2 separate regions of the Homo sapiens genome follow, and region 1 is linked to region 2. Evidence: fine-mapped expression QTL. A gene starts in region 2. The other region holds a variant in brackets. All regions are shown on one strand. Distances are from middle to middle.

Evidence for each region. PIP is the estimated chance that this variant, and not a neighbour inherited with it, causes the effect. A credible set is the group of variants that fine-mapping cannot tell apart.
Region 1: its variant is the best candidate, but not a certain one, in a credible set for the expression of SEMA6C in fibroblasts (GTEx, PIP 0.57).

Annotation. Positions count from the first base shown.
Region 1 is chr1:151,053,082-151,057,444 of GRCh38, reverse strand. It overlaps CDC42SE1 (CDC42 small effector 1), which reads left to right. Exons shown (of 5, transcript NM_020239.4): 2 at 1,452-1,768; 3 at 2,319-2,429; 4 at 3,124-3,214; 5 at 4,118-4,363. The coding sequence starts at 1,715. The coding sequence ends at 3,198. Among named protein-coding and RNA genes, the nearest start is that of CDC42SE1, 4.4 kb to the left of the region's middle. The variant GTTC/C (reference allele first, on the strand shown) is at 2,153.
Region 2 is chr1:151,144,754-151,149,133 of GRCh38, reverse strand. SEMA6C (semaphorin 6C) reads left to right here and starts at 2,503. Exons shown (of 19, transcript NM_030913.6): 1 at 2,503-2,701. It also overlaps a transcript of LYSMD1 not described here. RefSeq lists silencers at 2,026-2,085, 2,296-2,755.

The DNA.
Region 1 (4,363 bases), 92 kb after region 2:
TTCAAGCGATTCTCCTGCCTCAGCCTCCCAAGTAGCTGGGATTACAGGCATCCGCCACCACGCCCAGCTAATCTTTTGTATTTTTAGCAGAGATGGGGTTTCACCATGTTGGCCAGGCTGGTCTGGAACTCCTGACCTCAGGTGATCCGCCCACCTTGGCCTCCCAAAGTGCTGGGATTACAGGCGTGAGCCACCACGCCCGGCCTATCTCTTGTTTTTAAATCAGTCTAGGGTGCCAAAGCATCAGGGTTCCCGGCCTGCAAGAAAGGGAGATTCCTGTTCATGTTAAAGTGTCATATTTATGAAACTGCCCTTTTTGGAATCTTTGAGGTTGTCTGTACTATAGGACTGGGGAAATGCAAGTGAGTCTAAGAAGAAACCCAGATGTGTCCTACCCTGGCTGGCAGTAGTGAGAAGGGAGGAAGTTCTTCCTTGGACACTAGTACTATTGGAAAGTTCCTTATGTCTGGTTCACTGATGAAGCTTGAGGATAGAATTGGTGAGGAGGGAGGGGAGAACAGGTCACAGCTGGAGGGGAGCCTGGGCCCTATAGGGTGTGAGGCAGAGCAGAGTGGCAGATAGGACATGTGGACGGTGGGGAAAATATTCCTCATGGGACAGAAGATACCTGGCACATGTACCCACAACCTGTACACAGATGATCTGTACTGGACACACGTGGAGATATGGCCATGCCACGCATGTGCAAACAGAGGTGTACACACAGGAGTGCAGTGATACAGGACACAGATAAACAGAATGTACACAGCCTTCAGGAAGGATCTCAAGGTCAGGTAATAAAGGAACTGCTGCTGACTGGCTTCTGGGAGGGATTGGATTTCACTGGAGGGAAATCAGGAGGAATAGGGCAGCAAACAGAGAGGGAAGAAATTCCTTATTGTAGAAAGTCTTTCCTGAGGGCCAACCTGCCAGTTAGTCTCCTAGGACCTCAGTGGTCCAGGGCTCTCCTGTTCTTAAAGAAACTCTAGGCGTTCAGGGCAAGGTAAGAAAAAAGGCAGGGACAGGGTGGAGACCTTGTTTGTGAGAACAAAAAACCACTATTTCCTCTTCAGAGTCACTTAAATGCCCCTCCCCTTCTGCCCTAAACTCAGAGAGAAGGGAGCTGGAGCTTGTATCACCCCAAACTTTGCTAATTTCTGCCACTATCCTTTGGTCCTCGCCCATCCTCTTAACTCTAAGTGCTTCTAGCCCCCTTCCTCTCCCTTGGTACCACCAGCCACTGCTCCTTAACCCCTTGGTGTCCTTTTGGTTCTGTTCCTTTTTTTTAGAGTCAAACTGAGGTTCATAGTGTTTGGGAATGAGTGTTGGTGTACAGGTCTAGGGCCTCTCAGGGAGGACTGGGAAGATATAGGCTCATCAGGAGGTTTCTCAAGGATTGGGGGAGGGGGAGATTTCTCACTGATCTTTCTTTTTACTTTCTTCTAATCCAGGGTTCCGAGTCTGAGGAAGACATAACCTTGTGCCTGCCTGCCCACCTCTCTCTCTGGTCCTGTTCATCTCTCAGGCTCTGAGACACTGACCTTCACTGCTCAGTTAAAGGTTCCAGGGATTCCACTTTGTCTGGACCCATCCAGCTGAGTGAACCCAGGGTGGTGGTGTATCTGGGGAGAGTGAGGAGTGGGTTGTCCAAACACCAGGGAAAGAGCCCTTTGGGGCCTCAGACAGCGGAGTGAAGCTGGAACCATCAGGGAACATGAGTGAATTTTGGCACAAACTGGGCTGCTGTGTGGTAGAGAAACCCCAGCCGGTGAGTCTCCCCACCCCCCATCCTAACCCAAAGAGCAGTCAGTTACTGTGTGCTGTGAGGTAGCCACACCATCTAGGATCTGCCATCTAAAAAAGCACACTTCTTGCCTCCCTCTGTGTCAGGAGCTTCTATGGTCAGGCAGCTGTATATGTGGAACAAAGGGGACTGGGTGATGGAAGAAGTGAATAGTCCTAGCTATTACCTCCTGTTCCTGTCCATTCTGAGCTGGGTGGGGTTTGTAGGTGGAGCTGCATACCTGTCAGTTTTCCCCATTATTTCATCATCAGTCAGAGGTGACTTTGACATGTCCTTTCTTTGTCCAGTGTTCACTCTGCAGGCCACTGCCCTCACTACTCTGGTTCATGTCTTCTGTGTGCTTTTGTT[GTTC/C]CAGCTTTGCCTTTCATGCCCTAGTGATTTCCCTGTTAAAATGCCACATCCCCTCTTCCCACCAGGCCCTTAGCTTTTCAGTGGTTTTGAAGACTCTTTTCCCTTCCTCCGTGCTGACTGGAGGAGGGGCCTTAAGACATGACTCCTTATCTTCTCCAAGCAGAAGAAGAAGAGAAGACGGATTGACCGGACCATGATTGGGGAACCAATGAATTTTGTTCACCTGACTCACATTGGCTCAGGGGAGATGGGGGCCGGAGATGGACTTGCCATGGTAACAAGGAAATGGGGAGAGGTTGATACAGGGGTGAGGTCTATAACCGTTCCCTCTTTTTGAAAGTTCAAGCTAGGGACATATGAAAATACTCAATGGGGAAGTAAAAACCTGGGATTCTAGTCCTGGTCACCAGTTGTGGAAACCCGAGACCTGGCATTTTAGGTGTCTGGGCCTAGGTTCTCTCATCTTTACAACTTAGCAGATTGTTCTTCACTGGGGTAGGGGGTATATATATCTTAATAGTTGGAGGGCTTTTTCCAAAAACTTATAACTCTCCCTTCTCCTAATTAAGAACTGCTATCTCAGTGCCACAGTAAATCATATATTTAGGAGTGTTGGGACAGGAAAAAAGCTGAGTACCTTCATCCTAAATAATGTCTAAGATGCACTTCTGTTCCCAAAATAAGGGAAATGGGTCTAGAGATAGTCTTTTCTCAGATCCTGAAACTCAGATATATAGGGGAGAATCCATTGTGAGGGAATATTATTAGTAAAAGACCCATTTTACCTCATCCTCATGAAGGCCAGTGTGAAAAGAGGCATTGAGACTCCCCTAGGAGGAATGGTGGTTAGCAGATGGCTGCTATTGTCAAGGAGATGGCGTCAGCCTCTTCCCTGGAAGGCACAAAGTAGAGTTCTTACTGTAGGATATGAAGACTTACGAAGGTGTCTCGCATCTGTTTTTTTACAGACAGGTGCAGTTCAGGAGCAGATGAGATCCAAGGGAAACCGAGATAGGCCATGGAGCAATTCTAGGGGCTTATAGCTCCAATAATGGAATGGTGAGTGATTAGAGAAACCCATCTAACACCTCAGCCCCCATAACAGCACAACCTGATACCCTGACTCAGAACCCTGATCTTATGCAAGAAAGGGAGGTGTGGCCGGGCATGGTGGCTTATGCCTGTAATCCCAGCACTTTAGGAGGCCGAGATGGGTGGATCACTTGAGGCCAGGAGTTCAAGACCAGCCTGGCCAACGAGGCAAAACCCTGTCTCTACCAAAAAATACAAAAATTAGCCGGGCACAGTGGCGTGCTCCTGTAGTCCCATCTACCTGGGAGGCTGAGGCATGAGAATCACTTGAACCTGGGAGGCGGAGGTTACAGTGAGCTGAGATCGCGCCACTGCACTCCAGCCTGTGTGATAGAGCAAGACTCTATCTCAAAATATAAAAAAAGAATGGGAGATAGGGAGGAATTAGAAGGGAAGATTCAAGAATGTAGGATCTAGGCCGGGCATGGTGGCTAACGCCTATAATCCCAGCACTTTGGGAGGCCGAGGTCAGCAGATGACTTGAGGTCAGGAGTTTGAGACCAGCCTGGCCAACATGGTGAACCCCTGTCTCTACTAAAAGTACAAAAATTAGCCAGGCATGATGGCACACGCCTGTAATCCCAGTTACTCAGGCGGCTGAGGCCGAAGAATCACTTGAACTCGGGAGGTGGAGGTTGCAGTGAGTCTAGATTGCGCCACTGCACTCCAGCCTGGGCAACAGAGTGAGATTCCATCTCAAAAAAAAAAAGAATGTAGGATATAGAAAGACTGAGAGGGTGTTGTGCAGACAGAAGTAAAGAACACACTGTGGAAATAGCTTAAAGTCTGCACTAGGTAGTGCCTTCTTCCTAAAGCCTTGGTTTTCTTTGAGGCTAATCTTCTTTAAGAAAAACTTTTTTTTTATTTCAGGTTCTGCCATCTTGAAACCCCCATTCTGTTTCCAGCCCAGAAGAAATGCTGCCCCTACCAGATCCCTCCTTGAACCAGTGATCTAAGGACCCCTCTTTTCCCTATCTGCCTAACAGTGCCTCACAAGGCTTGGGGGCTGGACTCCCTCTACTCCCTCTGGCCATAGCCCCTCCTGGAGATGGGGTCAAGGCAGCAGGACTGATCAAGTGACTACTGGTTAGCCAGAGGAGCTCAGCTGAAGCCCTG
Region 2 (4,380 bases):
CAGGGGTGAGCCACCTCGCCCAGCCAAGAGAGTCATTTTGATTTGTCCTTCAAAATAGCTCTCAGATTCATGTATTTCTTTCTAAATCTGTTCCCATCACCCTTGTCTGATTGTCCCTCTCCCCTCACCTTTAAACCTTGTTTACTTGCTAGTAGGTCTCTGTCTTCTTGCTTAAAAAAATAAAAAAATACAAGTTGCACCCTTTTTCAAGAATTTAAAATGACGTCCTACTCCTGTCAGATGATTTTAACCAGCTCACCTAGTCATTCCAGGCCTTCTGTAATTTGTCTTCCCCTTTTCCCTCCCCTTGCTCCTAACTAGTGCCTTTCCCACACACCAGCCTCACAGGACCTTTTTTTTATCCATGCTGCAGGCTCCTTGCTAACCAAGTAAAAGCTTTTGCTGAAGCTGTGTCCCTCGGGAACATTTTCTTCTTTTGCACCAAGCCAACTCCCACCAAAGTTTTCCTGTCCTTCATGATAAAATGTATCCAGCATCTTTCTGTGCAGTCTTCGGAGAATATTTATTGTCTTCTTTGCACATTTGGAAATTTATGTTCAATGTAGCTTTTCTTTTGAGACTTGGTGTTGTCTTTTTAATAGTTTAGTACTATTAAATATTTAATATTTAGTACTGTCTTTTTAATAGTTTAGACTTTTTAATAGTTTAGTATGTGCAAATCTTATTTTAATTCAAATATATTATCATTTTCTTAAAGTCTGGAACCACAACCCACAGTGGATTGTGTAGTAGATTGTGTCTCAAGTAAGTGTTTAATACTTACTGGATTGAACTGAGATTTGAGCTGGGTCCTAAAACTTTAAATGAATTACACCTTAATCCCCACTCACTAATCTATTCCATAAGCATGTATCTGAGTACCTAAACCCTGTGCTAGGAGCTGAGGAGATTTCTTTTAACCTCTCAGTGCCTCTGTATTTTGAGGTGTCTTTCTCTGAAAATTTCTTTCCAGCCTTTAAAACAACCCCAACTGTCTGACAGTTTGTTGAATTGCCTTGGACCCAAGATCCCTCGGCCGTTAATTCTGTGTAGATATTGTCCCTGTTTATCTTCTTCTATTTTTTTTAGATCTGACTTTACTGAGTTACTGTTCATCTTACTGGTTCACCTGGCCTTAAATCTGTCTCTCTGTCTCTCTCTTTCTCTGTATGTGCGTGTGCACATGTGTGTGTATGTTTAGGTCTCTTGTGTACTCGCTGTGGGGCTTAGCCTAGTTGTTGATACTCCCCTCCCTGATCACAGTCCAGTTAAGGCTGGCCTAAAGTGGCAAACCCCTTCCCCCTCCTTTCCTCTAGTCCAGAGTCCAAGATGTGGGTAGAAGTGTTCAGTCAGATAAAACTATCTGAGAATGCCAGTGTCTCCCAGGCCACCCACTTTCCTGGAGAATTTTGAGAATGTCTTTTGTCCCAGCCCCACATAGAGAAGAATCCTACCAGGCAATACCAAGGTACCAAGCAATCCTGTCTGTAGTAGTTTATTCTTCCTCCTCACTGACATTCCCAGGGGCTTTATGAAGGGTGGGGAGGGAGAAGGGGCAGTTTTGCTGTTTGGAGGGATGTCACGGTCCTCTGAGGAAAGGTGGGACGTATGTCTGTGGGGCAGGAAGGCTGTGTGGGTTACTTTATCAAGTCTTAGCGTTGCTACTCTTTGTGCCTTTCTCTGAGTCAGTTAGTCTTGATTTCCACATCTGTTTTGGCTTCAGCCTCTCTCACCTGCCCTCTTCCATTACCCAACAGCCTGACTGCTAGCTAGTTCTTGCCATAGTGGCCCAAACTCATGCTGCTTTGTAGAGGTGGGAGGGGAGGAGATCATGGAAACAAGGGAAACCTCCTGCTGACACCTTCCTTTCCTTTCCCAGGCCTCCAGCCCCCACGCGCATGCTAGGCCTCCTTATCCGGGTCAGGACGAACCAGAGGAGGCCTACGGGGAGAAATAAGGAGACAGAGGGACAACGCATAGAGAGGAGCAACAGAGAGTTGGGGGCAGAGTCAGGGAGATGCGGGATGCGCCCTCGGGAGCAAGGTCGCCCAAGCCGTATAGGAGGGGAAGGGAGGACGGATCGCGCAGGCTCTGACAGCCCAGCCCAGCCCCGCGAGGCTCCCAGGTTTCCTGTCTGTTTCTCCTCCCAGCTCCTCTTCCTCTCTTGGGAAATTTCTCCCCAGAGCCTCTCCTGTGCCAGCCTGTCTCTGCTTCTGTATGTATTTCTTCCTCTGCCCGGTGTCGGCGACTGTCCGTGGGTCTCTCCATCTCGCGTCTGTCTCTGGTCTCCAGTTCAGCCTCCCGGCCTGGCCCTCTGGGTGGACGGTGCTCCTGGCGCCCCTCCCCGGGCAGCACTATTGGCGGAGAGGTGACGAGAAGGCGGTGTCTAGCCGCCCTCCGAGGGCGGGATTAGTCGCGGCGACCCAAAGGCGGGCAGGAGGTGGGCCCGGCTGGGAGGCGGGCGGGGCCACTGGGGCCGAGCCCAGAGCCCCGGGCGGTCGCATTGTTTTCCTCCGCGGATCCGCGGCTGGACTTGGACCCAGGGCTCTCCCGACAGCGCCCTGGAACCCAAATTCAAGCACCATCCAATTCGGACGCTCATCGCATCTCGCCTGAGCACAACCACGGATTGCGAACTCAGCGCAGCGCGTGGCCGCTGGCCGCCCGCGGCGATCTCGATCCCGCTGACCCGAATCCTGGAGCAAGTACCCCGGGCAGGGAAGGGGCTGCGGGGAGGCGGGGAGGGAGCAGGAGGGCGCGGCCGGCGGGGGGCAAGCTTCTGAAGCGCTAGGGGACCAGGGAGGTGTCGGCGCCCGGTGTGCCTGGCTGACGGAGAGGGTCAACGAAATTGGGGTGCAGGGAGGAAGGAGGGACAGTGGCCGAGCCCCGTAACTGTACTGGTGAGAGCAGAGTCTGGGCACCTCGTTCAATTGGGCTTTCGTCGAGTCGCATCCCGCTGGACTGGGAAGCGCGAAAAGGGATTATTTGAGGCGCGCTCCGTAGAGAGCGTGGAAAACCTGGCCCCTTGCTTTCCCAGCAAGGAAACTAGGGCTCCGAGACCCACGGAGAACTAGACCCTCCTGACGCCCCTGAAGGGATGGGAAGAGGGACGCATCGTTCCGGACTTTGTGTCACGGGTGCTCCTCTGTCCTTGTGCAAGCCGGAATCTGAGCACCCTCTGAAGGGTTGGCTCGTGCAAAGAGGCGGCGAATGGGGCCCTCGAGCAACATCGGTCCCAGCGCCTATCTCCTTCCTTCAGCCCGCTCGGCCCGGGGCTTTGTTAGACTGAGGTCTCCCAAGGAGGACATCCGAGCTGGCAACTGCCTCCTGAGCCCACGGTCCCCACTGAGCGCCGGCCTCAGGCCCGCCCTCGTCGGTTCTCAGCCTCTGGCCCTGTTTCCCTGGCCTGGGAGACCCGCCTCCGCTCCCCAACCCCCGCTCCTATCCCCTCTTCGTCTGCGCCTGCAGGCCCCTCCAGCCCCTCCTCTCGCTAACGTGGCTCTGGGACCCGGTCCCGGCCCAGACTCTGCTACCGGCCCCTCCTCGGAGCCCCGGATCCGGTGAGGGGGAGACAGGTCGAGCCCCTGGCCCTAGGCCCACCTCTTTTCGAGGCTTTAGACACCTGGATTGTCCTGGTTGGGGGTTGGGTGGGAAGGAGGGTAGGTGCTGAGTGTGGGGCTAAGAGCTAAGAGTGGGGGAAATGGCTTGGAGAAAGGAAAGCTCCGGTTCCACAGGCTCCTTGGCGCGACCCTGCTCCCTCTGAGGAAGGTGGACTGGGGCGGGCGACCAGCCCAAAGGCTTCCTGCTATTGTCCCCAGCCCAGTCTCCCCTTCTCCATCCCTTCCACAGCTCTCCTAGACTCTGGCTGTGACCCCAGCCATTCCCCAGAGGTGGCTTCGGGGCCAGGAGAGAGAAGGGCTGTTTCCTCTTCCCAGCAACGGGAGGATCTGGAAAGGGGAGAGTCGGCCAGGTCTCTCCCATGTGCTTCAGATGGGGTGTGTGAAGCAGCTCGGATTCTTCCAGGGCAGAGTGATCTTTTCTCCAGGCCAGGAGTTGAGGAGCTGACCAGATGCTGCTTCCCAGAAACAGCTACAAGAAGCCCTCTTAAAGGTGTATCATAGTTGAGTCTAGAAGGCCAATGCAAAGGCCAGCCAAGTGTTTGTAGAGGCTGGACTAATCCAGCCTAAAGTGGGGTGTGAGTGTGTGTGTGTGTAGACTGAGTGGAAGGGAGGCACAGCCTGCTCTCTCAGGGAGGAAGGAAAGGGTTGAGGGTGCTTGCTATCAGATCATTTTGCCTGGAAATGAAGAGCATGTAAATGAGATGCAAATTAGCCTCTATTGTCCCTAGCTAAGGCGCTTTTGCTAAGAAGGCTGTTGGAT